7 linked regions of the Homo sapiens genome follow. The protein of the gene in region 7 interacts with the protein of the main gene of each other region in a biochemical or structural test. Each region holds a gene or a part of one and is shown on either strand. Other genes may lie near its edges. The genes, in order: GRIP2, APBA1, NHERF2, DLG3, PDZRN4, MAGI3 and SCN5A.

Evidence for each region.
Region 1: the proteins of SCN5A (region 7) and GRIP2 interact in a test that uses a peptide from one of them, tested with the Homo sapiens proteins (one large-scale study listed by IntAct).
Region 2: the proteins of SCN5A (region 7) and APBA1 interact in a test that uses a peptide from one of them, tested with the Homo sapiens proteins (one large-scale study listed by IntAct).
Region 3: the proteins of SCN5A (region 7) and NHERF2 interact in a test that uses a peptide from one of them, tested with the Homo sapiens proteins (one large-scale study listed by IntAct).
Region 4: the proteins of SCN5A (region 7) and DLG3 interact in a test that uses a peptide from one of them, tested with the Homo sapiens proteins (one large-scale study listed by IntAct).
Region 5: the proteins of SCN5A (region 7) and PDZRN4 interact in a test that uses a peptide from one of them, tested with the Homo sapiens proteins (one large-scale study listed by IntAct).
Region 6: the proteins of SCN5A (region 7) and MAGI3 interact in a test that uses a peptide from one of them, tested with the Homo sapiens proteins (one large-scale study listed by IntAct).

What each region holds. Positions count from the first base shown.
Region 1 is NC_000003.12:14,516,343-14,519,842, forward strand, and holds part of GRIP2 (glutamate receptor-interacting protein 2), read right to left. Parts: intron 1,556-3,500; coding exon 1,430-1,555; intron 872-1,429; coding exon 722-871; intron 1-721.
Region 2 is NC_000009.12:69,662,372-69,665,871, reverse strand, and holds part of APBA1 (amyloid-beta A4 precursor protein-binding family A member 1), read left to right. Parts: intron 1-3,500. UniProt on the Homo sapiens protein: Putative function in synaptic vesicle exocytosis by binding to Munc18-1, an essential component of the synaptic vesicle exocytotic machinery. May modulate processing of the amyloid-beta precursor protein (APP) and hence formation of APP-beta.
Region 3 is NC_000016.10:2,029,902-2,033,401, reverse strand, and holds part of NHERF2 (Na(+)/H(+) exchange regulatory cofactor NHE-RF2), read right to left. Parts: intron 109-3,500; exon of another isoform or gene 51-108; coding exon of another isoform or gene 1-50.
Region 4 is NC_000023.11:70,496,835-70,500,334, reverse strand, and holds part of DLG3 (disks large homolog 3), read right to left. Parts: intron 3,156-3,500; coding exon of another isoform or gene 3,114-3,155; intron 1,816-3,113; coding exon 1,765-1,815; intron 1,160-1,764; coding exon 1,058-1,159; intron 459-1,057; coding exon 286-458; intron 1-285. UniProt on the Homo sapiens protein: Required for learning most likely through its role in synaptic plasticity following NMDA receptor signaling.
Region 5 is NC_000012.12:41,572,283-41,575,245, reverse strand, and holds the end of PDZRN4 (PDZ domain-containing RING finger protein 4), read right to left. Parts: intron 2,883-2,963; coding exon 1,356-2,882; 3' UTR 501-1,355; downstream 1-500.
Region 6 is NC_000001.11:113,638,515-113,642,014, reverse strand, and holds part of MAGI3 (membrane-associated guanylate kinase, WW and PDZ domain-containing protein 3), read right to left. Parts: intron 105-3,500; coding exon 1-104.
Region 7 is NC_000003.12:38,552,188-38,555,687, forward strand, and holds part of SCN5A (sodium channel protein type 5 subunit alpha), read right to left. Parts: coding exon 3,469-3,500; intron 2,363-3,468; coding exon 2,092-2,362; intron 1-2,091. UniProt on the Homo sapiens protein: Pore-forming subunit of Nav1.5, a voltage-gated sodium (Nav) channel that directly mediates the depolarizing phase of action potentials in excitable membranes.

The sequences.
Region 1 (3,500 bases), about 24 Mb from region 7:
ATCTTCTATCCTTCCTGGAGGCCTCTGCAGCTCATGTGGCAGGAGGCTGAGAACCCTTTCTGCATCAACAAAGGAAAGACTGTTCCCAAGAAGGGTTTCAAAATTTTAGGCATTATTGTGTTTTGCCACTTCCACAGGGCTCCTGCCTTATCATTCACTACTTTTGTCTTCTATTGATTTACTTTTCTTAACATGTAAATATCTTTATTTCAAAAGGGCAATTTTGAACAATAAATAAGCAGAGAAGTAAGACTGGAAATTATTACATTCTGGACAGCTAGAGTCTCAGGCCATGTCTTTGTCTTAGGGGAAATTAACAAATGGCAGAGAGGTGGTAAGGATATAGTAACGCAGCACTGAGGCTTTATCCATGAATGAATCAGGACTGAATGGCAAAAAATGTGAAAACTTCATGCACATCTGAAAAGACTTCCTTTCCTCAAGGACGTTATCACCAAATCCTAGGAATTTTTCATAATAAAAATACAAGAATAAAAGTGTACAAAGTAACTGGCACCTCTCAGTGGTCCTCTTGAGCAGTGCACAACCTGCCCAACCATCCATGACAGCCTGGTGTTCCACTCATGTTATTTAACATTCCCACGCATACACCTGGAGCTCTGCCCAAAATACCTCCCCTCGCCCTGACATACACCCTTTGGCAAGCCTCACTCTCAGACATACAAGCAGCCCAAGGAGGAGGGAAGAGACCACAGCTTACACGAGCTCTTGTGTTCCCTTCTTCGCTGCCTCCTCCGCCCCATTGTAGTTCGAGGACTCATGGGCTGGGATCCACGGGGAAGGGTGCTGGGGTTGTTGCAGGAAAAGGCGTGGTTCAAGGTCGGCGAGGAAAAGGGAGTTGAAGACAAGGCTGGGGAGATGAGAGCACAGCCCCGTGAACCCCAGCCGAGGCTCTCCACCCCACCACACAGTGGGTGCTGGGAAGCCACCCAACCACAGGGAGAGATGGGGATGCCTTCCCCCTTCACATCAGTTACTCATTGTGTGACCTCAGGCAAGTCCCTTTCCTCTCTGGGTCTCAAAGACTGCAGGGTTTCCATAGACCCTGTGAAACTCAGCTATTAGGGACGGGGCCAATCTTGCCACTGGCATGCTAGATGACAATGAGGCAGGCCACCTAATCTCTCTCTCTTTTTTTTTTTTTTTTTTTTTTTTTTAGTTGAGGTCTCGCTCTGTCACCCAGGCTGAAGTGCGGCGGTGTGATCTTGACTCACTGCAGCCTCAACCTCCCAGGCTGAAGCGATCCTCCCGCCTCAGCCTCCCGAGTGGCTGGGACCACAGGCGTGCACCACCACACCCAGCTCACTAATCTCTGAGTCTGAGTTTCCTTCCCTTAGACAACAGGCATCGCCCCCTCCCTAGGAAAGGCTACAAGACTGGCTGAGCTACAGCAGGGCAGGCACATTACATCGGCTTTGGTCCTGGCCAGCAGGTGTGGCCCAGGTGGGCATCCTGCAGTGGCCGGGCCGGGGGCTGTGGCAGGAGGGCACGCAGGGGTCCCAGCGGTGCAGCTGCTCACTCCTCTGCACTTTCACTGTAGCCAGCGGAGAAAGAGGAAAGAGAGGTGCAGGCGTTAGTGGCTGAGGGCACTATGAAGCCAGGAAAGCAAGAACCAGAAGATCCTCGTGCTTCCCCTGAGCCAGGCAAGGCATTTAGTATTCTGCTCACATGTCCCGGACGCCTACAATGTGCCGGGCACTGTGTTCAGAGTGCAGCTGCTGCCACATGGCAGCCTGAGAGGCAGGGACAGGAGAGAGAAAGGAAGCCAGGCCGAGGCCCACTGCTGGGAGGTTGTGGAGCAGGGATTTGAACACAGGCATCCTGCCCTGGAGCCGGAGAGGTCTATGGCTATGAGTGCTGCCATGAAGTTTCTCCAAGAAAGAATTGGTGAGGAGTGCAGCTGGCAGACGGTGTCCAGCTGCAGCACTTTGGGGATATGCAGTGGCTCTGCAGCCCAGGCAGCCTCGGCCAGTGGCTGAGCACCGGGGCACTAGGGCCTGGCTATTTCTGCCCCACGACTCTCCAGGACAGCCTTTGCTCCAGGGCTTCCTGCTGGGTTGGCCAAGGCTGAAGTGCACCACGGGCTGAGGCTGCTCCCCCTTCCCAGGCTGCAACCCTTCCCAGCCTTATCCACAGTGAATTCTTTGCACTCCTGTTCCAAGTTCCCAGGGAACCCCCACTGCCCCGACCCCCTAGGAGACCCTGCTTCCTCCATCTGATCCTCCAAACTGGCCACCATACAACACCTCTTCCCAGACCGCCCCAGGCCAGCTCTCCTCTTGCGCGGATGGACAGGTGAGGACTCAACTGTCTCAGCCCGTTGATTCTGTCTCCTTGAGCCACATCTCCACAGCCCCCCTCCCCAGGGCTTGGCCCACTCTGGAGCCAGTTGCCTGGGTCAAATCCCAGCTCTGTCCCTGACCAACTGCGGGACCTGGAGGAGTCACTTCGCCTATCTGTGCCTCAGTGCTATTATCTGTAAAATGGGACCAAGAGAGTGGCCACCTCCTCGGGTAATGGGGAGGGTTAGAATGAGTTAATAATATAACATGCTTAGAGCAGTGCCTGGCACTTAGTAGAAGCTCAGTTAATGAGAGCCAAGGGGTTGTACGCAGATGTGTAGCCTTGCAACGCTACCTCAGCTTTCCCTGTAAAGTGGGAGGACAGTAAGACTAAGCTCAGAGAGGTGTCATGAGGAAGTAATGAGGCGTGCAGGCCGCGGCACCGAACCTGGCACGTGGCAGATGCTCGATAAATGGTACGAGAATGAATGACGCTGTTTCAAGCCCTAATGTCACCCAGACCAGTCCCTGGACTGTGGTTCATTCAGTGTGGCTTTTTCAGAAGCTGGCAGAGACCATAGAGATGGACTCTCCCCAAGAACTGTCCTCCCAATCAGATGTGGGGGATTCCGTTCTCTTCCAGAAGATGGGGTTTGCAAAGGGTGGGGTGGACAGACTCCTTCCTCACCCTCCAGCTCTGCCCTTAGGGCTAGGATTTATAGGCCTGGGCTGTGCCTTGTCCTTTATCTCCGTCAGCCTCCCCCATGTCTGTGCATTAGAAGTCCTCCCTCCTTTTTACAGATGAGATGACTGGGACTCAGAGAGGGAAAAGCACTTGTCCAGCTGCTGGGAGCAAAGATGGGACTTTCACTCAAGGCCCAAGGTTTGGGCTGCTGGACGTGCTTTCCTGCCCTGAGCTGAAAGCTGCCCCTCTGTGGCCACCCCCCACCCTGCCCCTGGCCCCAACTGTGCCCTCTGGACCCCCAGACCACCCACTTCCTCTGCTCTTGGAAATGCCCAGCACCCAGCTCCCTGCTCATAGCTGGGAGACCCTGACTCTTCAAAGGAGAAACTCCAGGCCCTCTCTAACTTCCCAGCTGCCTCCTCTGGATCTGCTGAGAGTCACTGAGAAGAGCCCAGGATCTAAGCTCTGAGTAGCAGAGAGCACAGGACTGTTCCCTCCCTCATTCTAGCCCT
Region 2 (3,500 bases), on a different chromosome or scaffold from region 7:
CCCAGCTATTTGGGAGGCTGAGGCAGGAGAATTGCTTGAACCTGGGAGGCAGAGGTTGCAGTGAGCCGAGATCACATCAGAAAACAAAGCGTGATTCTGTCTGGGTAGTGATGAAATACTAGTCAGCTGGAAGTAGTTCTGCTCCTTGGAACTTACATCTCTTCTGTGTCCTGAATCTTCTTTAAATATTGCTCTCTTTTCTTCTTCCTTGTTTCATGTTCCATTCTCAAGTATAAGATCCTTGAGGCTAGAACTTTGTTTTGTTCATCTGGGTATACTCTATAACACAGACTGACTCTCTGCATTAGTAAGGGTTTATCAAATACTTACGGAGAGGAATTGATGAGAAATTTCCAAAGATTTAAGTAACTCAGGTGTAAAGAATGAGGGTAAAGCTCGTTTACCTTGATTTCTGCAGATAGGTAGCTGTTTTTCAAACAGGACACAGAATTGCCATAGGATGCTAAAGCAGTTTATGCATGCAGACCCTGAGATGAGGACTTGAGTTCAGAATAGTTTATCTGAGAGACAACCTCAAGAAGCACAAGTGAGAGAATGGAGAAAATGACACAGGAGAGGGAAGAAAGCCCATTAAGAGGTGAGTTAATGAGCAGGTTACCACGGTGGGCAGCTGAGGCTTGGCTCTGCTGGCATTATATAGACTGCACATTAGGATTGTCCACCAAGCAGTGGAGAAAGTGGGGTCTTTATCCACCATTTCCCTAGGGATATTAAATCTTCAGTACTTTAGGGCTGCTAAGATTAGCCTGAGCAAGCTCCAGAGACACCAAAGAAAGCTCTTGAGCAGAGAAGCAGAGAGGCAGAGCCAGGTGGAAGTGGGAAACTGTCAGTGTATTTGGAGACTGTCGATACAGCTATAGCTGAACTCAGAAGTGGACATGGGACCCCTGTTTAACACAGCACAGAGGTATCATAAAGAATTTTTAACAGATAATAATTGGTTTGATGGCAGTTATTTTAATTTAGGGATTTTAATGTATTGTGACAACTGCCTGCAGTTCTGTTCACTCACAAGCCAACTATTGGCCACCCTCAGTTATCTGAGGTGCAGAGTACTATATATGCTCATGTGTAAGATACGCTCTGTTATAGGGTGGCCCTCAGTTTTCCAACAAGAGCGTTTATAAAAAGACTTTATGTCAACTTGAATATGCATATTCTAGGAATATAGGCAAAGAGTGAAGTATCTACTTATGTTTAATTTATTAGTTTACTTTCATATAATTGAAGTCACATTATATAAAATTATTAATTTAGAAATATGACATCCTTCCATTCTCACATTTTATGAAATCATTTATTCAAATACTTCACATACTTTTTTGACTTTAGAGTCTTTGTCATGATTAGGCCACTTTTGTCATGTTCATTTCTATCTAACTTTTTTGAGATATAGTACTTCTTGAGTTTCTGTATGATGCTACCACCACAAACTTTATTCCAAACCCTGTGTGCTCATTCACTTAATGTAAGAACGTTTGTTTTATCCTTTCTTCCTAAAGGAGTATATTTATGATCTCTGCAACCCAGCACTTCTGTATGTCTTGTGTAAAGACATCCAAGACAAGCAATTGTAAAGCTCCTTCCCAGGAATATTTACTTCAATTGGTGTTAAAATCATGGCCTCCTTTACTCTGTATTCATTCAGTCATTTATCTTCTTTCAATTGCATAGCCTTCAGAAGTATCCCTATCTTGTGTTGATTGAGTTTATTTCCGGCTATCTTCTCCAAATAGTTCTTAAGTAACCTCTGAAACACACAACTCCTTTTCATGAAATCTGCAGTCTTACCAGGTAATATGTTTTTTCATGGTTTCTCTCTTTAAAATCAGTTGCCGTCACATCCAGCATTAGTGAATTACATGGCTTTCAATTTCTGTTATCTTGGAGGTAACAGGGTTTTTGGCATTCAGAAGAAGGTAATTAAGAGAATACCCCACAATATGGGAGACTTTGTAAGCATTTATACATAAGGCAACTTTCTCTTTTCTGAAATACACATTTTGGAGGACAGAATCTCATCTTTTTGTATATGTAAAGTGATCACAGGAGGTTGTCAAGGTATGGTGGCAAAACCAATCCCTACACACTAAGTTTCCTTTTCAGCCTCCTCTTCTGTTCCATGTGGATTAATTAGCATACAATTTGTATGAAAAATACAGCAAATACAGCAATGATTTATTTCCTAATGGAATTAATTGGCCACCATTCCAAATAATGTAATCGTTATGTTTCTGACTATTGATAAATTTTGTATCTCGAGATCAATTCTGCATTTATTAACAGGCACACTTTATTTTAAAGAAGGATAATTGCCAAAGTATGTATAAATTCCTTTTTCTTGTAAATTGTAGCATATTTTAAAAGCAGAGGACGAGCTTAGAGTCATTTAAGGAAATTCCACTTAACAAGAATAATTACCCCCTACATTGGCTATTCAGTGAATTTGGACTTTTATACTGGACTTTACTAAAGTGGGTTGCATTCTGTTGCAGTGGCTTTTACACACTTTTGGCCATGATTCCTGGTGAGAACACAATTTAGATGATAGGCTAGCAACATAGATGAATGTGTGTAAACACATATACACACACACATACATCACTGAAACAAGTTTCACTCAACAATACTTGTCCTTTATTATGTGTAATCCACCCTGATGCTTCCTATCCTATTCTCTTCTGTTCTGTATGTTTGCCAACCCACTGAAGTAATCTCTGCATTGGTGAACCCTAATATGCAGTTTAGAAAACACTGCTGTATTGTATTACATTTATCAGAAGAGTGTTTATTTTCTTATAGTATGAAATAATTTCATGTCAAAAGTTGTTTTTTCGTTTTTTGAATTGTTAGCATATTTGGATATTTGGTGGTATGGACAAATGATGCAGTAATCACAGAGAGAAACTTTATTTTTGAGTAGACATTTTGTTTCCAAAAGAAGAAATTACATTAGTGTGGAAAAGGGAAAGTGGAGTAAGAAGAATAGATTTGTTCTTAGATCTGTGGCTTTCTTGGGTTGTGGGGACCGTGTCAAGTCACTGGGCCACAACCTCCTTGCTGAGCTGGTTCCTCACGATTCTTTCCTGTCCTTCACTCTTCCTGCCCCTCTTCCTAGCTGCTGTCTCTTAGCCTCTAGAGTTCTGGATGTTTAGTTAAATTACTTAATTCTAAATTTTAACCTAATATTATTTCTTCCCAGATGTGAAAATAGTTTCTACGCCCACTTCCCTTCCAAATAACTTGAAAATATAAGAATCATTTTTCCCTGAGCTAGTACCTGGAAGAGTTCTCTCCTAAAGGAGCTAGAATTTGTTCTACAGATGAAATGTTTCCATAGTATTAGGTCATATGAAAGCTTAACCTAATCTTATGTTCAGGTATGATTGTGTTCTTTATGGCAGGCTAGCTATCAAAGTACACATAAATTCCTTTTTTAAAAGCTCAGCAGATTCCCCATCCAGTGACTAAAAACAAGT
Region 3 (3,500 bases), on a different chromosome or scaffold from region 7:
GGGGCTCCCGGAGCCCGGGCAGGTGGCGTGGCACTCCCGGAGCGTGCCATGACAGCGGCACAGTGACAGCAAGTGGCAGGCGTCCGGCCGGGGTGGCCTGAACTCTCTGGCCGACCCAGGCTGCCACCCCACTTATCTACCTCCCTCTGCGGCCCTGGCTCCCCGGGGATGGGTGGGGACGTGGGGGCTGAGTCACTCTGGGGAGCAGGGTGATGACTGAGCCCGCTCCCCTGCGAAGGCTCCAGCCTGGCGCCCCCCACCCAGCTAGGCTTCCGTCCCAAGAAAGGAAGGAAGGAAGCTGCTGGAAGGCCCTGCCCTGCCCCAGGACCCAGGGCTGAGGGGACAGGGAGGAGTCCCGGCCCCAGAACACAGGACGGTCCTGTTGAGGCTCCAGAGGAGCAAGAGCCAGGGAAGCCCGGAAGCCCCCGCAGGCACCGCGCCCCAACCACACAGCCGCCTCCCGCAGAACTGTCACCCCTCACACCTGCTCTTAGCCCCCAAGGCCCTCCAGATGGGGGTGGAGACATGGGCTAGGGGCAGGGGGCAGAGGGCTCAGGGTCTGCCACCACCTCCAGGGCCTGGCACCGCTGGCCACCCCGTCTCTGTTTGGGGGCTGTCCCCTGTCGTCACTACTAGGATCAGCTGCACTGCAGCTGCGGCCACCCCCAGCCTGGTGTGGCCCAGGGCTGAGTCATCACTAACTAGGCCTTCACGGCCCCCAAAAGGAGGGGCCAACCACATCAGTGTCCTCCCCTGCCCACCTCCCCTATCCCCAGCCAGGACAGAGGACACTGAGAGCCACCCTTAGCTCCCAGGGGGCACCCAAAGTTGGGCCCTCTCCATCCTTCACCAAAGACAAACTACACACATCCCTTCCAGAGCTCTGCCTCTCTGCCACCAGTGCCCCCACTGGAGCCATCCCCGCAAGGTAAGCTTTGCCCTCCTGGGCTCCCTGACCATCTGAGGCATGCCCTGAACCCAGGCTGAGAAGGGCAGGATCTGAGCCTGCTCTGTGGAGGTCAGGTGAGGCCCACCTCTTCCTGCCCATGCTGGGAGCTCAGGTGAAGAAACCTCAGGTCCTGAGCCAGGCGCAGGGGCTCACACCTGTAATCCCAGCACTTTGGGAGGCTGAGGCAGGCGGATCACTTGAGCCCAAGAGTTTGAGACCAGCCTGGCCAACACGGTGAAACCCTGTCTCTACCAAAAACACAAAAATTAGCCAGGTGTGGTGGTACACGCCTGTAATCCCAGCTACTCAGCAGGCTGAGACATAAGAATTGCTTGAACCCAGGAGGCGGAGCTTGCAGTGAGCCGAGATCGCACCACAGCACTCCAGCCTGGGCGACAGAGTGAAACTCCGTCTCAAAAAAAAAAAAAAAGAAAGAAAGAAATGAAACCTCAGACCTCAGGGGCCGGGTACAGTGGCTCACACCTGTAATCCCAGAACTTTGGGAGGTCGAGGAGGGCAGATCACCTGAGATCAGGAGTTCGAGACCAGCTTGAGCAACATGGTGAAACCCCGTCTCTACTAAAAACACAAAAATTAGTCAGGTGTGGTGGTGCGCGCCTGTAATCCCAGCTACTGGGGAGGGTGAGGCAAGAGAATCGCTTGAACCCAGACAGCGGAGGTTGTAGTGAGCCAAGAAAGAAAAAGAAAAAGAAACCTCAGGTCTTGATGCCAGAAGAGAGAAGGGGAGACCCTGTTCCTTGGGTGCCCCCTGACCTCCTGGAGCCCCTGTCCCCAGCCAGACTCATGCACAAAGGGACCTGCCACTCAGGCCACCCTTTGTTCCTCTAAAAATACACCCAGAGGAAGCCCCTCCTAGGGCTTCCTGCAGCCCCCAGAGCCTGAAATAGCAGAGGGGGAAGGTCCCACCCAAGGCAAGGTGCCTGGGCCACTGCACCCTCCAGATAAAGTCCGAGGGCCGGATTTTTCCACAGGAAGGTGAACCATGCGTTTGTGTCCAAATCAATGGACAAACGCCTGAGGCAGAGGGGGAGCTTCCTCCTGGGGGAGGGAAGGTGGCTGGGAAAGAGGGAGGCCCCAACCCTCAGCCTGGAGACAGGGGCTTAGGACCAGCCAGCCCCCCTGCAAGGCCAGCCCCCCCACCAGCCCTGGGCTGGGCACCTTGGCCCTGAGCACCACTGTGGCCCGCCCTCAAGCCCCAGGAACAAAACGGGTCCCACAGGTCCCACGGGCAGGCCTGCGCCCAGGCTGGGCTCCCCACAGGGAATGCTGTCTCCCTGCCAAGCCGCTCCCCCCGGGCTCAGCTCCTAGGGGCAGCCAGCTTCAGCAGTGACGTCTGGGAAAGGGAGAAAGTGAATGTGTATATCCCCTGCACCCTCAGAACTCCAGATCCCACACCCCTGCCCCAAGCGCGGTTCTCACAGTGGGGTCTGGCCAACCCCTGGACTCATATCCCCTGAAGGGATTTCTTTCTTTTCCTTTTTTTGTTTTTTTTTGAGACAGTCTCACTCTGTCGCCTAGGCTGGAGTGCTATGGCGGGATCTCGGCTCACTGAAACCTCCGCCTGCCGGGTTCAAGCGACTCTCCTGCCTCAGCCTCCCAAGTAGCTGGGACTATAGGCGTGCCCCACCATGCCCAACTGATTTTTGTATTTTTAGTAGAGACGGGGGTTTCACCACATTAGTCAAGCTGGTCTCAAAATTCCTGACCTCAGGTGATCCACCCATCTCAGCCTCCCGAAGTGTTGGGATTACAGGCGTGAGCCACCGCACCCGGCCAGGGTTCTCTTTGAAAATGAAAAAAAAAAAAAAAAAAAGGTAGGAGAGAACATGGAGATAATGCCATCAGGGCCTCCAGGAAGATAAGACAGACAGCTTCAGGCTGTTCCTCCTGGTCCCCAAGGCCTGCCAGGCCGCCCCTCCCAGTCGGCCACCTAGCAGGAGGTGGAGCAGGCCGCCCCTGTACTTTTCTGGGTCTCCTGGCTGGGAGCAAGGGCAGGGGAAGGAGGAAGTACTACCCAGCAGGAGTCCAGGAGGAACAGCAGACAGGGTCCCAGGGCCCTCCCTTGTATCTAGGGGGAGGAGTGGGCTCACCCTGGAGCCTCCTGGACCCCCAACTCCACTCCCATGCTCCCAGCCCCACCTACGCCAGGCCTGGCAGAGTGGCCTCCTAGGCTTCCCCAACCACGGCGCTGCCTGTGGAGAAGGCCGGCCCTCTCCCAGGCCTTCCCAGCATGCAGGCGCCTTCAACAGAGACAAAGACAGAGCCACGGATGACACCCAGCACAGGCACAGAGCTGCGCACACGCAGACCTGGAATGCCTCTTCCCAGGGTTCCTCAGCCACGAGGCTGGGGGCTGGGGAGGCGGCAGCTTGTCAGAGTGACCCCTCGATAGGGCAAGTGGCTCTGGAGCATCCTGGAGAAGAGGAACAGGCCAGGCTGCCCTGACCCTACCCAGTTTAAAACACAGGCTGAGGGTAGAAACAGTGGCCCCCAGTGGCCAACAAGATGGTCCCTGGGGCAGAAAAGGAGC
Region 4 (3,500 bases), on a different chromosome or scaffold from region 7:
CCTAAGAAATTCGATCTCTGAAGTAGACAGGCCCTACTTTTTGCTCCTATTACCCAGAAAAGGCCACATCTGTCCAGGGCCCCCTATTCCCTGTTGGGTAATGCTCTGGGGTGAGTTGTATGAAGGAGACAGATAGCTTCGTCAAGGCGCTGGGAGTATGCAGATGTGCTATGGCTTTGGTCAGCAGCACTGTTGGGCAGCTCCTGTGTTGGAAGGATAAGGATCCAAGTGGAACCTTGGCATAAGCATTGGCCTCCCCTTTGAGGCCATCTCCTGTACACTTACCCTCTCTGCAACTGCCCGCACTGACTGGATGCTGGTCCCATAGAGGTTATCATTAAATTGGCCCGCCTCGATGAACTTGTTGTCCTGAATATCTTTCTCCATTTGTTCTCGGGACACCACAAAGTGGTAGTCTTGTCCATCCACCTCATTATCACGTCGAGGCCGGGTAGTATCTGAAGGAAGAAAGGAAATGCTTTGTGGCCCAGGGGCAGTGATCCGCCCCAAACCAAAAAATACTGACTGGTCCATTCTCATCTGGGTGGGTCACTGGGCCACTCCATTTTTTTTTTCAAGTAAGTGGGAGAAAACAAGCAGTTGGGAAGCGGTTTGTCTGGCCTACTTCTCTTCCAATCTCCAGGTCTCACACAGGGGGCTATTTGCTTTAGCTTAAACTGGACTAGAAAGGTGGGGTTTCCTGAGCTAAAGCATGGCAGAGGGTGCCAAACTTGGTAGAGGAGACAGTGAACCTAACAAACTGTTAATGGAGTCACATCAACACCACTTTGGCTGGGCCTCCGTATTTGTCCAATCATTCTCAACCATCACCACTGAAACTTCCCCTCAAGAGTGAGCAGCCAAGCCTGATGGCTTAATCTCTCCAACCCCATCAGCTTTTGGGGAATATATTGCCACCTACTGTTTTCCAGCGTGTCAAATGTACCCTGTCCCCAAATAGCCCTAGAATCTGATCCCAGACCTTTTCCATAAAACATTAGAGCAACAATTCCCAGGGCACCAAGCCTCACTCCTCTGGGCCTTCCTGGACTCTTACGTGGCACACAGGATCCAAATTTATGTGGAAATTCGGAGATCAGGTCATCATTGACTCGGTCCTTCATTGGGCCCAGGATGATCACAGGCCTTGCATAGTGAACTAGAGAGGGAGAGCATCGAGACAGTGAACAGAGGCCCCCACCAGACAGCCTGTCCTACCCCTGAGTCTGGCTAGAACACAGAGGCTCTGGAGCAGAGACTCAGACAGGGTAAAGCATCCTCAGACATTGTCTGGCTTTTAAACAGAAAGACATCAAAGAGCCTTTAATTTGAGAATATCTAAGTTCAAGGCAAGTCTGAAACCGGAAGCTGCTCCCCTTCTAACAGAGTCAGAAAAAATCTCTGCACTGACACCAGTAACTGAGCAAGGTTTTTGCAGAGCAGCCACTGAAGGGAAGAACCTGGACCTCTCTTTTAGCAGTGGCTACATCTACTGAAATAGACTTTCCTTGTAAATTTGCCCCCTCCTTTGGAAGGTGTCCTGGCAGCAGGCAAAGGCACAGAGAGAAGTGCACACTGGATGCACCCCCTTCCCTATGACACTAGGAAGAAGCATAGAGAAGAAGGAGCCCAGGGGCTGGATGTGCCATGAGTCAAGCCTTCCTCCTCCTCCAGGTCCCTCCCTCTGCTGCCACAGCCACCCACTGTATTGAGCCCCACGACCAGGAGACCAGCACGAAGACAAGGCTCTCAGAGGAGGCTTACTTTCTTGCCGTGTCACTGGCTCATATGACAAAATAGCATCCTCTTGTCCTTCTGCAACAAAAAAGAGAGATAGGTTAGCACCATATGATCTGCCTCCTTCTGTACAGTACTCCCCGTACCCCTCCCCTGCCAGGACACAGCCTTATCAGGTGGTCCTTGCCACCACCTGTGATCCTTTCTGTTTTCTGCTGGTGAGAAAGCACATGAAACCCTTCACTGGCTCTGAGACAGGAGTCAGCAGTTCTCTTGTTCAGTGAAATATCACTGGGCAAAGGGCCAAGGCCCAGAAGCCATGAAGCCTCCACCCCAAACCACCCCAATTTGTGAGGAACTCTTCTTGTAGGTAACAAGTCAGCTGTGTGCAGTAGCCCCCTTGCTCTGGTAAGAATGACAGGGACACTTTGACTGGTTGAGATGCTTGCCCGAGTCCCCTTCATCAACATGCAGGGGAGTCAGGGCACACACCCAGGTCCCCAAGCAGCCTAACTTTGCCCTTTTAAAGGTCTACCAACCCACCTCCTGCATTGGAAGCAGCATCCAGAAAAGTGGCACATGGCTCTGCTAAGGTCCCCAGTGCCCTTTAAGAGCAATGCTGAACCTGCTGTCTCTTCCTGGTGGAGCCCCATGTCGAGCCTAGCAATGTTGAGGTTTTCCTAAAACAGTCGTCAAGCCACTCGGTGCTGGGTGCCTGGAGGTCCCAAAGTGGCTGATGGCAGTCCCAGGGAAAACAGTGATATTTGCATCAAGGCACACAATGCTTGCTAAAAGGCTTCTTCTGAGCCTAATATTCCTGGGCAGATTTTACAAGGCTTCTAGCCACCATAGCTCCTGAAAAACCAGTGCTCCCAAAGTTCATGAGGTTTGAATTACGGTTTCTCTGGTCTGGTCACAGGATCTCCCAAGGAGAACTTGGCAATTACCTCATCCTTTAACTGGCCCCAAAGGCAAAGAGGTCCTAATGACCTGGAAAGGCAGATTTAGGGCAGTGTCCTAGAGGAGCCATTTTTCTTTTGGTCTCTGAGCAAATCTATAAACCTGGCAGCACCTATGGCCCACAGTACCCATGGCAGGGATTTACTCTTTGGCAGTTTACCCTTCCCAGTGCCAGGGATGCTTTTAAGTCAGGTCCCGGCCAGCACTATAGGGCTTATACTCTCCTTTAATCCATGGGGTGAACCCCAACCCATAAGGAGAATGAACTGGCCACAGCATTTCTAGGATCTCAAAGTGTACATGGCTAAAAGAAGCACCAGCCTCTGAGCAGCAATGGCAGCTGTGCAACACTGGAATGAGGATGGCTGGGATACACAGTGGAGCTACACGACATGGAAGGAATGACACACACTTACTGGAACTGCTTTCGCTGTCACTGGTGTTGGATGTCACTCCCTCTGCAAGCCAACAAGAAAGAGACTCCAATTCAGAACACACCACTGAGAGGTCACATGCAGCACAAAACTCAAATGCTCCAGGAGCGAGACACTGAGCTGCCAACTGAGTCAGGCCACCAGAGGCCTGCCACATCCAGGCTACCAACTGGGAGGCACAGCTCCAATCCTGAGCCCCTGGCCCTCTCGTACTTGTCCCCAGAGCCCTCTTGGTCTGCCAAGTCCCTCCCTATGTACTACAAGCCATACTTCCTTCAGCAGCATCCTCTTCATCTGAATCAAATTGACCTGGATGGTTTCCAAATCGTATTTCAAAATGCATCTCCCAAGGCTAACAACAGGAAAGAA
Region 5 (2,963 bases), on a different chromosome or scaffold from region 7:
GACTGAATTGTGTTCCTCCAAAATTCATATGTTGAAACCCTAACCCCTAGTGTGTTTGACCTTGACTCTTTCAGTCTTCAGAACTATGAGAAATTGATGCCCAGCACAGTGGTTCACACCTGTAATCTCAGCACTTTGGAAGGCCTCAGTAGGAGGATTGCTTGAATCCAGGAGTTCAAGACTAGCCTGGCAACAAAGTGAGACCACCATTTAAAAAAAAAAAAACTATGAGAAATAAATTCCTGTTGTTTAAGTATGGCATTATGTTATGATAGCCAGAGCAGACTAACATACATTGCAGCATTATAAACAATCTCAGACACTTCACTGATATTCTCTCTCCATGGCATTCTTTAAATTTTTCTTGGTTTTACCTTAAAAGTGGGTGGCAGGCAACGGGAACATGAACTAATGGCTATTGAATGTTGAGTTAGCATCTGTTAGATGCTATACATATATTATCGAATTTAATCCTGGTAGGCATATGTGACACAGTGATCTATAGGGAATGTTTCAATACAACTTTATTGGAAACAAGTGATAGAAAATGTGCACATTTTATAATCCACAATTAGGCGTCTTCTAAATAGTATACACATATAACTACTTTATAACTGTCAACCACTGTGGACAAGGAAAATAAAACACTCCTTGATAATTTTTCTGAAGGATAATCAATAATTTATTTCTCTTTAATTGTCACAATTACCATAATTATCTAGCTACATGACCAATGTCACTACATATCACAGGAAGATTGTCCACCTACACTTTACTGAGACAAAGACAATGGCCATTTATGTGTTAAATGTACAATGGGATGTTAACACCATTTATGTGTTAAATGTACAATGGGATGTTAAAAGCAGTGGCTTTTATGTGTAAGACAAGATGTGGCACATGATTTATTACGAACAGGTTTGATTTAAAATGTATTATGCCAAGAAACAAGCATAGAAATATTTTGGCATTGAGTTATTATTAAAGTAGAAAATAAGTAAACTAGAGAAATAAATCCAGATTTTCACTTACATTAGATACATTGAAGTAGGAAATTAATTGGCTCCTCAGTATTTTTGTGCAAGTTTTTTTTGTTTTCTTTCCTTTTGTTTTTGATTTTTTATAAACGAGTAATATGAATATATCACAAGTAAAAGAAAGATCTCAGCCAAAAAGAAGGTACCAGTATATGAAAAACAAATGAAAAATTACCAGGTATTTTTTGCTTACAAAAAATTTAAACTATAAAGAGTCACAAAATATATATAAAAACGCCACATTGAACGAGGCAATCATACTCTACCGAAACTGGTAGCATCCTCCTAAAATCAGTCGCATGCATTCCATTCATTCGGTCATACAGTGGTCACCGACAAGAAGGCATTATGGACTCTCGTGCCATCTGGAGACTTGGCCCCATGGGTCATCAGTTCTTGGATTGTCATCCAGTTGTCCAAAATTTTCTTGTTTCTCTTTTTCATCATCTTTTTGTGACTCAGTTCAATGATATTGATCTCCTTCTTGCCCTCACTGCCGCTCTGAGGGCTCTCCTTGAGACACTCTAACCTGCTTCGCATCATGAACTCACGGCGACGGCGCTGCTCTTTGGCCCTAACCAGGTGCTGCTTTCTCTCCTCTTTGCTCCAGTAGCGCCCCATTTTCATCTCGCTCATGGTGTCATCGTCTGTGGTCATGCCACTCCGCTCTTCCTTGATCTTTAAGGCACGTTCCTTCAGGATTCGGTCTCGCACGGGTCTCTTTGTGATGTACCGTGTCCCGTCGCTCCTAATTTTCACCTTCCATTCCATCTTGGGCTCTGAACACTTCTGAGACTCCTTGCACATGCTCACCAAGCTGAGCTGACTCTGAGCATACTCGACTGCAGATTTCTGTTGAATTAACTGCATGTAGCTTTGATAATGCCGGGCGTGTGCTGGGATGTTTGCATATCTATATGAGGAGCTGTGGTAAGGAGAGAGGTAAGGGATGTGTTCGCTGACTGCCTTCTCTTGATCAGGAAGCTTGCTGCCTTCTAAAACCTTCTCCTTGCTTTCAGCGCTACAACCTTGCTCAGTGGTTTTGGCTTTGGTGGAGGTCGACTCTTTACTGCTCTGTCCGGAAGAGGACTGGGTGGCTGCCATTGTGCTTCTCAGGTTTTTCTTATTGGTGAGGTTGATCACCCTTGGAAGGGAACTGTCAGGGGAACGGTCTACAGTGAGCGGAGTACTTCTGCAGCTCTCAGCTGTGTTGTAAGCACTAGAACTGTCCTTGTCAGACTTTTCTGGATGCTCCATGATGTCATCTAGCTTTCCCCTTTGCATATCTATGCTGGTGTTATAATTCCGGAATCCTCCATCATGCAATGTCCAGATGTCTCCATACTGGTCTGTCACTTTCTGGAGCCTGTGAGCCTGCATGATATTCTGACACTCAAGCTCAATGTTTCTCAGTTCTTCATTAAGCAACTGTAGCTCATGCTCCACTCCCTCTTGCTCCCCTTGATTGCATTCAATTGTGCTGCTTGAGTAATACAGGTCATACTCTCCATGATTTCGAATCTTGCATTTGAGCTCCAAGAGCTGCCTGAATCTTTCACAGTCCTCATCTGGGTTGCCAATGCAGTCTGAGTCAATGTATTCACCAGATACGAGGCTCTCATTGTACTGAAGTTCAACACTTCCCAGAGTGTCTTGGCTCTGCCCCAGGTCTCTCTTGCTCTTCAAAGATGTGCTATTGGGGTCCTCGGCTGCATTCTCCTGCTCTGAGCTCTCATCATTTCGCAAGCTTTCATCTGTACGTCCTACTCCACTGTCCTTCTCATGGTTGTTGGATGAGGATGTTGCAGTGTCTGTTGTGCCTTCTTCTTCTTCTTGCTTTTTTGGCTAAGAAAATGATGTTGAAAGAACAAAGAAAATTAATGATTTTGGAAGACATTTGTTATTAAAAATCTTGTTTGAAAACCA
Region 6 (3,500 bases), on a different chromosome or scaffold from region 7:
GAGGTTTACATACTGATTGACAGGTACCAATTGAAACATCTGGACAACATCTGCATGAGTGTGACCGAGGACACAGTTGCCATTGATGTCTACAATAACATCGCCTGGAAAAACATAATCATGTTAAAAATATTAAAATCAACAAATAAGTTAATTTTTTTGCTAGAGGGGCAAAAATAACTACAATTTAGCAACTAAATTTGAATTTTGGAAACCTCTATTAACTGCTGAAAAGATAGATTTCTAACACAGACCTTCTCCCTTTTCTAACTCCTCTCTAAAATGTATGTATAAATGTCTAAAATCCTACTTATTTCAGTAGCAAAGAATTTTGACTTCAAGCTCAAGTGAATCATTAAAAAAAAAACCCTGATAATTTATATTATCATTGTTAGTATACCCTCTGAGTCATATCTAAGTATCCATGCAAAGCTAGGCACATTGCAGTAGGTATTTAGTACAGAAGCAAATAACTCCACTGACTACTTGTACAAACTGTATTATATTTTTTGAATAAATTAATTTTATTTATATATCTGTATGTATGTATATATACATACACTGAAAAAGACGCTGTCCTTAACCAAACTCTAGACAGGTTCCTCTGAGCTCTTTTTTCAGTAGGCCTCATCCTTGGCATGTCCTCCAGAGCCCAGCTTTAGCAGGAATCCTGCTAAGTTGGTTTAGCCAGAATCACCCACTCTTGATATATGATCTAAGTCCTCATTCCCCACCATTCTCCAGGTGATTACCTGATCACCTCAGCCTGCATTCAGCAAGAATCCTGTCAAGTTCCTATAGCCCCTATAGCCAGAAATCCTCCTCCACCCCTGATATATATATAGATTTATATATATCTCATATATATTTATATATCATATATATAATATATATCTCATATATATTTATATATCATATATATAATATATATCTCATATATATTATATATATCATATATAATATATCATATATATTATATATATCATATATATTATATATCATATATATTATATATATCATATATAGTGTATATATATTATATATCATATATATATTTAATATTATATATATTTATATATATGATATATAAAATATATCATATATAAATATATATATATTTAAATTTTACTTTAAGTTCCAGGATGCAAGTGCAGAATATGTAGATTTGTTACATAGGTATAAGTGTGCCATGGTGGTTTGCTACACCTATCAACCCGTCATCTAGGTTTTAAGCCCCACATGCATTAGTTATTTGTCCTAATGCTCTCCCTCTCCTCGTCCCCCAACCCCCGACTGGCCCTGGTGTTTGTTGTTCACGGCCCTGTGTCCATGTGTTCTCATTGTTCAACTCCCACTTATAAGAACATGCAGCGTTTGGTTTTCCGTTTCTGTGTTAGTTTACTGAGGATGATGGCTTCCAGCTTCATCTATGTCCCTGCAAAGGACATGATCTCATTCCTTTTTATGGCTGCATAGTATTCCATAGTGTATATATACCACATTTTCCTTATGCAATCTATCATTGATGGGCATTTGGGTTGGTTCCTGTCTTTGCTATTGTAAATAGTGCTGCAATAAACATACGTGTGCATGTGTCTTTATAGTAGAATGATTTATATTCCTTTGGGTATATATCCAGTAATGGGATTGCTGGATCAAATGGTATTTCTGGTTCAAGATCCTTAAGGAATTGCTACACTGTCTTCCACATTAATTGAACTAATTTATACTCCCACCAATAGTGTAAAAGCGTTCCTGTTTCTCCACAGCCTTGCCAGCATCTATTGTTTCTTGATTTTTTAATAATCACCATTCTGACTGGCGTAAGATGATATCTCACTGTCATTTTGATTTGCATTTCTTTAATAATCAGCGATGTTGAGCTTTTTTTCATATGCTTGTTAGCCACATAATTGTCTTTTTTTGAGAAGTATCTGTTCATATCCTTTGTCCACTTTTTGACAGGGTCAGTCTATCTTTAAATACCACCTTATTTCTTGAGTTTAAGAAGCCACTGGCTGGGCGTGGTGGCTCAGGCCAGGCGCAGCGGCTCATGCCTGTAATCCCAGTACACCTGAGGTCAGGAATTCGACACCAGCCTGGCTAACATGGCGAAACCCCATCTCTACTAAAATACAAAAAAATTAGGCCAGACGCGGTGGCTCACGCCTGTAATCCCCGCACTTTGGGAGGCTGAGGCAGGTGGATCACCTGAGGTCAGGAGTTCAAGACCAGCCTGGCCAACATGATGAAACCCTGTCTCCACTAAAAATACAAAAAATTAGCTGGGTGTGGTGGTATGTGCTATAATCCCAGCTACTCAGGAGGCTGAGGCAGGAGAATTGCTTGAACCCAGGAGGCAGAGGTTGCAGTAAGCCGAGGTCGCAGCACTGCACTCCAGCCTGGGCAACAAGAGTAAAACTCCATCTCAAAAAAAGAAAAAAAATTAGCCAGGCATGGTGGCGTGCGCCTGTAATCCCAGGTACTTAGGAAGCTGAGGCAGGAGAATCACTTGAACGCAGGAGGCGGAGGTTGCAATGAGCCGAGATTCTGCCATCGCACTCCAGCCTGGATGACAAGAGTGAGATTTGGTCTCAAACAAACGAACAAACAAACAAAAAAACTAAACAGGTGGGAGCCGAGATGGCCGAATAGGAACAGCTCCGGTCTACAGTTCCCAGCGTGAGCGACGCAGAAGATGGGTGATTTCTGCATTTCCATCTGAGGTACCGGGTTCATCTCACTAGGGAGTGCCAGACAGTGGGTGCAGGATAGTGGGTGCAGCGCACCGTGTGCGAGCTGAAGCAGGGCGAGGCATTGCCTCACTCGGGAAGTGCAAGGGGTCAGGGAGTTCCCTTTCCTAGTCAAAGAAAGGGGTGACAGACGGCACCTGGAAAATTGGGTCACTCCCACCCGAATACTGCGCTTTTCTGATGGGCTTAAAAAACGGCGCACCAGGAGATTATATGCCGCACCTGGCTCGGAGGGTCCTACGCCCACGGAGTCTCACTGATTGCTAGCACAGCAGTCTGAGATCAAACTGCAAGGCGGCAGTGAGGCTGGGGGAGGGGCGCCCGCCATTGCCCAGGCTTGCTTAGGTAAACAAAGCAGCCGGGAAGCTCGAACTGGGTGGAGCCCACCACAGCTCAAGGAGGCCTGCCTGCCTCTGTAGGCTCCACCTCTGGGGGCGGGGCACAGACAAACAAAAAGACAGCAGTAACCTCTGCAGACTTAAATGTCCCTGTCTGACAGCTTTGAGGAGAGCAGTGGTTCTCCTAGCACGCAGCTGGAGATCTGAGAACAGGCAGACTGCCTCCTCAAGTGGGTCCCTGACCCCTGACCCCTGAGCAGCCTAACTGGGAGGCACCCCCCAGTAGGGGCAGACTGACACCTCACATGACCGGGTACTCCTCTGAGAAAAAACTTCCAGAGGAACGATCAGACAGCAGCATTCACGGTTCACGAAAATCCGCTGCTGTGCAGCTACCGCTGCTGGTACC
Region 7 (3,500 bases):
TGAGGGCGTCACTGCCCCTGGGTCTCCTGTGACTACCTGGGTTTGGAGTTTTAAGGGGCATGGATATAAATCATGGAATAAAGAGTGAAATAAACTTGTCTTATATGGCCCAAGTGCCCTTTCCAGACTCCTTATATAATAATGTCACTGACTGACATGGGTCCAGTGTTTACGATCACTGGGGCAATGGGCCGAGCACTTTATAGCCATCATTTCATTTAGTCCTTCCCATTGTCCTAGGAAGTGAGCAGATGCCATCATCCTTATCTTCCAGAAGAGGAAACAGAGGTGAGGTAACTTACCCAAGTTGCCACCTAGTGAGTGAGAAGCTGGGATTTGACTCAGACGTTCGGGCTCCAAGTTGATCTCTTAACCACTCCTCCTCTCTGGTACCGCCCAAACAGCGGGCCAGGAGAGATCCCAAAGTACATGCTGAACCTTCCAAAGCCTCTGAGACTGTCCCTCAATGGTTCCATTCCTGCTGCTGACATCCTGCATTCTCTAAAACTCCTCTCCAGTCCCATAAGGCACGCTCTCACCCTCATCCTGCTTGAGACCCCCCAGAGATTCCTGACCCTACTTTGTGCTTCCATCTTCCCGTCACTATAGCCACAGCAGTGCCTGCCTTAGCCCCTGCATTATCCTTTACATTTACCAGAGGCAGAGGTTGTATATGGCAGAAAGATGAAAGTCACAGTCACCGCAAGGCAGAGCCCCTTGGGGGTAGAGTTAAAGAGTTTGGGCTCCGAGCACAAGTGACAAAAGAAAAAATATAAGTAAACTGGACTTCATTAACATGTAAAACTTTTGTGCTTTAATGGACACCACTAGGAAATGAAAAAACTCACAGACTAGGAGAAAATATTTTTAAATCATATATCTGATAAGAGACTATGATCCAGAATATGTAAAGAACTCTTACAACTCAACAAGAAAAAGAGAAATAACCCAATTAAAAATGAGCTAAGGATCTGAATAGAGATTTCTCCAAGGAAGATATATAAATGACCAACATGCACATGGAAAGATGTCCTGCATCGTTAGTCATCAGTCATTTGCTTTTGCAAACCAAAACCTCAGTGAGATATCACTTCATACTCACTAGGAGGGCTCCTATAAAAAGAATGCAGGCAATAACAAGTGTTGGTGAGGGCAAAATAATTGGAATCCTCATACATTGACAGCGAGAATGTAAAAAGGTGCAGCCATATTGAAAAACAGTTTGGTGGTCCCTCAAAACTTTAGATAAGTGGTTTTCAGGGGTGAGGGAGAGGGGAAATGAATGGGGATTGACTATTAAATGGGTAGAGTTTCCTTTGGGGAAAGGAATATATTCTAAAATTAGATAGTGGTGATGGTTGCAAAGCTCTGTGCATATATTAAAAAACACTGAATTGTATACTTTAAAGTGACTTTAAAGTTAACCGTGAATTTTATGGTATGTGAATTATGTCTCAGTAAAGCTGTTATATAAAAAAAAGATCTGGGCTCCGAGGTCAAACAGACATGGGTCAGGATTGGGTCTCTGCTTCTCCCTAGCTGCACAATCTCCCTCCTTTGGTGCTGAATTGACTGGGTGAATTGCATGAGGCAGGTGATGTCTGAAGGAGTCTGGCATACACCTTGGCGGTTAGCTCCAGAATTTTCCATCTTCAGGGATAATTTCTACTCTGGAGGGCCACCTATCCCCCATCCCTGGGGACCCATCTCATCCTGAGCTTCCTTCTCCTTCAACCTAAGTGCAGGCAGAATTAGCCTCCACAGCACCCACTCCCATTCCCAGACTCATCCTTGAAGCTCTCTAAGCAGTTAGAGAACTGTGTTCCCAGTTCCTCTGGAGGGTGGGGCCAGGAGCAAGTGCTGGGTCCTCTGCCAGATTGGTCTCCTTGGCCCAAGTGGGGCCTTCCAGATAAGTTCTCTCTGGAGAGGTGTGTGTGCGTGTATGTGTGAGGGGAGAAGGGGGGTGAGAAATGCACTGAAAAAAATTATGAAAGAAGCTAGGGTTGTACATGGCATTCAGCAGAGACCCAGGGGCTGGAGGAGAGGCCTGGCTGGGGAGGGCTTCTCCGTCCAGCTGACTTGTATACCCACCCACGATGGAGAGGATGACAACCACGAAGTCGAAGATATTCCAGCTGTTGGTGAAGTAGTAGTGGCGCAGGGCAGCCAGCTTGACAATACACTCGCCTGTGAAGATGGCCACAAAGAGCAGGTTGATCTTGGCCAAGATGTTGATTTTCTCAGGACTTTGGTCATCTGTCTCCACCATCATGGTCACCATATTCAAGCAGATCAGAAACATGATGGTGACGTCAAAGGCCTGCTTGGTCACAATGTCGAATATGAAGCCCTGGTACTTGTTCTGAAAGGAGAGGCAAATGGAAAGTGCTCAGCAGGGCCCTTGGGGAGGCTGGCAAATGCCTGTTGCTGCCTCTCATCCCAGACCACCCACCCTCCCACTCTACCCTCTAGTGAGCCCAAAGCCCCTGCAACACTGCCACAGAGAGTGCAGAGGAAAAAGTCCTGGAGGCTAAAGCCACTGGCTGTCCTGCTGAAATGCTTCCTGGGCTTCAAGGCCCATCCCCAGAGCTCCATCTTCCATGAGGCCTTCCATGATGGATCTTCAGGGAGAGATTGTTCCTGCCCTGAGCATCCTTAGCACACTGTTCATTGTGCTTCCCTTTTAGTTCCCACAGTCTGAAGGCTCAAGGGCAAATTTAAACTTCAACCTTAGTAATTATGTCAGTGCTTAGATTAATATATTTTCTCCACTTTTTTATGGAATTTATTTTATTTATTCTACTAACCATATTTGTATGTGTCTTTAATTGTAAATCAGCCCAGATTATTTGGGGAAAGAAATAAGATTTTATATATATATATATATATATATATATATATATATATATATATATATATTTTTTTTTTTTTTTTTTTTCTTCTGTTCTCCCACTTGGAAAAGATTATAAATAACACACACACACACACACACACACACACACACACAATTTTTTGGATAATGGCTTGATTGGGCCAAGGGAGTCAGTCTTGGAGAGGACCCCGCTCTCCAGAGCTCTTGGCTCTCCCCACCAGGTGACTCAGGAATCCGGCTCCCTGACTGTTCTGGGGTTCCAAGGATGAGGCTGTGAGTGGGGTGGGGTGGGGCTGTGAAGGCTGCACTGCTTTTCCTGGGGAAAGCCTGCATCCTTGAGGGGAAGGAGGAGATTTGCTCAGGTACAGAGGGTTCCTGTGGGTGGGGAGTGTCCTGGGATGCTACATCCTTATCATACCTTCCTCCCTATCTCTACGAGGCTGGGACCTCTCTTCATGATCAGACATCTGATAGTGCCCCTCAGGCTGGGCTGAAAGACTGTGAAGCGGCTCTGATGGCTGGCCATGTGGCACGAAAGCTTCCCAGGGACCCCAGAAGATCCTCCCCACTCCCACAAAACCAGGAGCCTGGCTCACCAGGGGCCGTGGGATGGGCTTCTGGGGCTTCT